2 separate regions of the Homo sapiens genome follow, and region 2 is linked to region 1. Evidence: fine-mapped expression QTL. A gene starts in region 1. The other region holds a variant in brackets. All regions are shown on one strand. Distances are between the middles of the regions.

Evidence for each region. PIP is the estimated chance that this variant, and not a neighbour inherited with it, causes the effect.
Region 2: its variant is the best candidate, but not a certain one, in a credible set for the expression of NGF in monocytes after Pam3CSK4 (Quach 2016, PIP 0.80).

Annotation. Positions count from the first base shown.
Region 1 is chr1:115,336,762-115,339,668 of GRCh38, reverse strand. NGF (nerve growth factor) reads left to right here and starts at 1,420. Exons shown (of 3, transcript NM_002506.3): 1 at 1,420-1,465. All of the region lies in intron 1 of NGF-AS1 (NGF antisense RNA 1), which reads right to left.
Region 2 is chr1:115,505,290-115,508,196 of GRCh38, reverse strand. No RefSeq gene overlaps it. Among named protein-coding and RNA genes, the nearest start is that of VANGL1, 140 kb to the left of the region's middle. The variant A/C (reference allele first, on the strand shown) is at 1,606.

The DNA.
Region 1 (2,907 bases):
AGAAAGAAGTAAGACCTCAAGACTAATCTGAATCAAGGGAGTTGGAAATGCCTAGTCAGGGCTTCATCTTGCTCAAGTGCCATCCATTAAGGGTAAATGACCACCCCCAGACTTAGGACAGGAATCATCTGCTTCACTAAATCCCAGTTCCCTGGAGGGTGCCCTTCTGCTAAGTTGCACTGGCTGGTGTTACCAGCAATAGGGAGATTCTGTGCCCCACCTTCCCTCCCTGTTACTCTCCTCACACCTACTTCTCCTCTGTGGCATCCATACAGGGTAGGGGTCCAACCCACCTTTGCTATAGGAAGAAGCGAAGGCACAGACAAGCTCAACACGGGAGGGAGTGGGGCTGTAAATTTCCAAAGAGCTACGAATCCCCTGGAATGCTACAATTAATGATGCACATTTGGTGACAAATTTGACTTCAGGGGTATTTCTCCCTTGCTCATTTTATGCTGGGGTGGGAACAGCCCTGGCAGAGGGGCAGGGGAAAGTCAGGCAAGCTCTCCTGTCAGGCTGAATCGAGGGAACTCAAGAAATTTTGAAGGGTCAGGAAGAATTTGTGTGGGGCCTGGAGTGTGGAGAGGGGGGCATGGGGGCCTAGGGTTTGCTGGCTATATCAGTCTGGGGTCACAGACCCCTTGCAAAACTGATGAAAGCTGCGGACCTTCAGCTCAGAAAAGAATATTAGCATTGCACACAGTCGCGCAAATCAGCCTACAGTTTCAGAGGGGCCAAGGACTCCGGGAAGTTCCTGGAACCCAGGGCCTTAAGTTAAGGTCCCGGCTCTAGCTCCTGACTCCTGAAGTCCTCTGCCCCTTGTCCCCATGCTGGACTTGCCGGGCCTGGGGGCCTTCTAGCTGGTTCTGCAGCCGCCTTCCCTTGTCAGAGGAGCTTGGGCACCTGCCCCTCGCGGAGCTCCCCCTGGGTGCTCACCTATCCTGGGATAAGGAAAGGCGCCCCGAAGAAAAGGAGCAGCCGATGCCTGGGGCACCGAGGGCGACGCCGGGCAGACCAGGGAGGCACTGGCGAAGGGCAACGCGCGGGGGCAGGGCGGAGAGGTGAGGGAAGCTGCGAGCAACTCCGCCCAGCCCCAGCCAGTCGGCCCAACGACCCCTGCCGGTGCCCCAGAAACTCCCCCTCCCGGCTTTGCGCGCGCGGCCCCTCAGACCCCAGTGGGTTTCCCTTTGACCTCTGAAGGTTTAAAGTCCTTCTCTGGCTGGGTCTGGCCAGCCCTCCAGGAGCGATCCGTCTGTAGTCCCCAGGACCCCCTCCAGCCGGGCACCACAGCCCAGCCACAGCAGGTGCGGGGCTGGTGGTGGGGAGGGGAGGGATGGGGGCCAGGATTTGGAGCGTGTGACTCAGGAGTACGGGAGGAGGGGCTAAGAATTCAAGAAGCCTGTGTGAGAGCAGCTCGGCGCTCCGGCACAGCAGAGAGCGCTGGGAGCCGGAGGGGAGCGCAGCGGTGAGTCAGGCTGCCCCGAGCCGATCCCGAGAGGGGCGCAGCGCGGGCGCGGGCAGGGGTGGCTGGGCTTCGCGGGAGAGTTTGCAAGGATACCGGTCTGGCGAGCTCTCTGGTTACCCCCGAGGCTCCCGCAGGCCGAAGAGCAGCCCTGAGAAATGTCCCGAGTGGGTGTGGGGGCGCGGGACCCTCGCGGGAGGACGAGTCGGACCGAGGGAACAGCGTTAGTTCTGGTCGTGGAGTCCCTAGTCCCAGGATGGCCTGCAGTCCAGGGAGCAGCCCTGGCGCCTGCAGAAGCCCACGGCCATGCCAGGGTCTAGCTCGAGGGCTAGAAGTGGATAACGCGCAAGTGAGGGAGAGCGAATGGGCGCGGAGAGGGATGCGCCGGCAGCTGGCGCGCCAGGGCGGGAGGAGTGGCGGCCAGCACCGCGGGGGGAGCGCAGAGCGCGCTGGCTGAGGTGAGCGCCGAGTAGGGAAAGTGCTGCGCGGCCCCCAGGTAGGGGGAGGAGCGGAACGGGGCGCGCTAGACCTGGGGCAGTTCCCTCAGCGCGTCTCGGAAGGGCTGGGAGTCGTGACTGAGGGCCCCGGGGGTTAACGCAGGAAGTCTGCGAGCCAACGCCGGGGTCCGTCCGGCGTACCGGGGCCCTCCACGGAGCCGCGTTGGACAACCTCAGGTAGAGGTCGCCAAGGTTCAGCCCTGCCACTTGGGTCACACGCTTCATCTCCAGCTGTCTGCTGCCAGGTGTGGGAGAAGCGGGCGTGGAAGGTTAGGGCGGGGAGCGCCTTGAGTTCAGGCGAGGAGGATCTAGGGGAGGGAGAGAGGACTCAGGGGTCAGGGAGCTGCAACTTTGAGCCAGCAGAAACAAGCAGCTTAGCTCCCTCTAATTACAAACCTCCTTCTAAAAAAAAAAAAAAAAAAAAAAAAAAAAAAAAAAAAAACAAAAACAAAACAAAAAAAATTTCGAGATTCTTAAGGAAGGTGTTTCGTGCTTGAACTTTTTCTTCTCTTGTGATTTGAGAGATTAAAAAAGAGCCTGCTTGCTAGGCTGGTTTTTCCAAGTTGTTCCAGGTTGGAAGTTGTAACAGTTCGAAGGATAATTTATGAGTGTTTCATGCATTAAAGTGTATTACAGCAAAGCCTTTTGGGTGCTGTGGGTATTAAGGAAAACTTAGTGCACGTTCCCAGCTGGAAACCAAAATAGTGCTCTCCTGGGTGCCTCTGCCCCATCTGTCATCCAAGGCCAATGGAAATCCTGTAGAAAAGTCACTTGATTAATTGTTCTGGCTCCATCCTCTGGGCACACCCACTGCCAGTGCCAGTCCCCTCCTCCCCAATCCATGCACAGCCAGCTGCACTCTGCAAATGCAGAAATGACAGTGGAGACCCCATCAGTAACTTCTCTCCAGGGTCCTCAAACTCTTGAAGCCGTCAGTTAAGTCTGCTG
Region 2 (2,907 bases), 170 kb before region 1:
TTTGAAAGCAAATCTTCGTTCTTGAGAAGAATGAGAGAGATTTAAGGAGGTGTGGAAAGAATGTTGAACGGAATCCAAAATCTCTTTGTAAATGTATTTTGAAAGAAATAATTCAGCATTGTTTTAAAATCACAGTTTCTAAAATGGGGAATAAAAATTGGCAAGTCTCAGTCTCATAAGATGCAGACTTGGCCAAAATCGTCTTTCCCTCTTTGAGGGTTTGGTTTTTTTTAAAGAAACATTTTAAGTGAAAACTCTGCTGCTGGCTTTAGCTTGTGAGTTCTTTGGGTAGAGTCCTTACACTGGTTGGAGAACAATAAAAGATTCACAGTGGAATTCACATCAGAGAAGGTGGCCCCCCAGGATGTGAGTTGAAACCAGAGTGTCCTCCTTCACTGCCATCTTCTCACCACCTGCAGTGGTAACACCCAGTCCTGCATCCATGGCACCATGATGGCCCTCATCCGAGACCAGAGACAGCACAGCCTCAGCAAGCCAAGTTTCTGGTGCCATCCAAAGGACATCAGTGACATAGAGCACAGGAGGAAGGCTTGTTTGAGGATAGTAATTGTTTGACTTCCCACAGATTATTTTGTCCAAAACCCTAAGGACTCCATTGCAAAAAAATACTGCGCCAGGAAGAGTAGATAGAGGAAGAAAAGGGAATAAGTGTGGGGTGAGAAAGGGCATGCCATGGAAGAGAAGGGAGCAGAGGGAAGAAGAGGGCTGAGGGGAAAGGGGAAAAAGGGACTGGGAATTCCGCAGGGTCAGAGGACCTTGCCAAGACCACCATTTGTTCGAAGCATGCTCTGCCCCTAGATGGTGCTGTGTAATTAGCAAGTTCAGGAAATAACCTCACTCAGCACAGAATCCCAGCTTTCCCTGTGGTGCGTTTATGTATGGGGGCTTGTTTGCATCAGTTTCCCACACAGCCCCAAATTAACTTGTGCGTGCTCCTGGCGGCTATCCTGTGTCCTTTTCTTCCCCTCCATTCTCCGTGCTCTTTTTCATCTGCTGCGTGCTGTGCTAGGTGCTCCTTGTATCTTACCTCCTGCATGCTCACAAGAAGCCTGTGAGATAGGCAGCCTTATCTGCTTCAAAGATGAAAATAATGAGACTCAGATATGTACCGTGAGAAGCTCAAGCTCTCTGAATCTTAAATTCAACAGCTGGAGCCCAGGTTTGAATCTGGATAAGTGGGACTTGCAAAGTCCATGAGCCTGAGAGTGGGAAATCTGGTGCCTAACTCTCCGTGGCCATCCCTGTGTGTCTCTGAGCCTGGTTGCCATCATCTTTACCGTGCTCTAGCCAACGACCAGCCTGTCGGCCCTCTGACCCCTCAGTCAATCAACAGTCTTGATTCATTGTGTGAAGACCACGTTGTGTACAGAGACTTGCCTGAGCCCTGTGTCAGTGAAAGTCACAGGTGGCTTCCCCGGAGGGAGATAGGTTGCTGTGAGTTATTACTTCCCCCAGGAGGAACCCAAGGTGAGTGTTTGGCTCACTGGTCATCGCAGTGACATAGCTGGGTGTGAGTAACGAGAGACAGAGAGGGAGGGGAGAAGGGAAAAAAAGGAAGAACCGAAATAAGCTAAATCATCATGA[A/C]TGACTTCTGTTCTGACCAGGAAGATATTTTATTTTCCATGTAAATTTACACCTCTCAGAGCATGTGGAAGCAACAGGCTAAGAATCCAAACAAAAATCCTGTTCTCAAATAATTAGTAATCAATAACTAATTTGTACGAAACTCAAAATAAAAATTACCAATGTTATTTAGCTGGTAATAATAATCTTTGAAAAATAAAACATGACGTTTTGATTCTACGTTCTAATTTATTTTAAATTGAGAGAAACTGAAAAGAAAAGAGGGAGAGATAAGGAGGACACAGAAGCAGAGGAATGACAGAGGAGAAGGAAAACAAAAAGGGACAAAAACAGGTTCCCTGCACCACCTGGGCACCTGTGTCTTTCCTCATGACCCTGTGGCCTTTATTCTTGCTTATTTTCCTTTGTGCCTCCCTGACTCTTCTCTCTACACATATATTTAAAAATAAATAGGGAAATAAAATAGAATTCAAAGGTGATTCCCTTCCCCTGCCACAGCATATTTCCATTATTTTAATGACATAGTAATTTTCATTGCACTGAAAAAAAAAGGATTGATCCATCAATTATCAATTCAGGCAACAAACTAAAATTGAGATAATTGTAGTCTGGATTAACCACTTTTAAAAAAAATTACAAAGCTGTCAAGTGAGCTTTGTGTAGCTGAGTAGATACAGAAAAGAGGAAAGAGTGTTGTGATGCTGATAGTAGTGATAACAAGAAGATGCCTTTTAAAAAAAGTCTTAATATACCTGGCACTGCGTTTAGCAACTGGCAAGAATTAAGGGAAAAAGCAGAAAAGGATAATATATTATGAATATGTTTTCTTACCTTTAAGTCCTTCAGGACTCATCAAAACAAAGGACAACTTCATCTTCCACGAGAACAGAAGAACCGCTTCTGTTACATCTGGTAAGTTCATCTGTTATGGAAGTAGGTACAGCGAAGTGTTCAGAGAAATAACCTTCTCTAGGCCTTTCTGTAAACTGGATTTTATTAATGGTCTTGACTTCATAAAGTAGAGCAGTGTGAGAGGCAGGCATCCAAGTGAGTTAGTATCTGACTGTCAGGGCATGCATAGGCAAAAATCCTTGAGTCAAGCAGCTGTGACCCATGAATAGGAGGCCCTCAAAATCCATTTGGCTAGAGTGCTAAGACCAAGCAAGAAAACACTTAACTTTAAGTGTCAGTGCTATTGCAACCTCAATGAGATTTTATCTGTGGAGTGAATGATTAGGGGAGACCAAATTTATTGTCATCCAGAGGAAGTATTTATAAACTTGGCAGAGCCACATGTGAGAG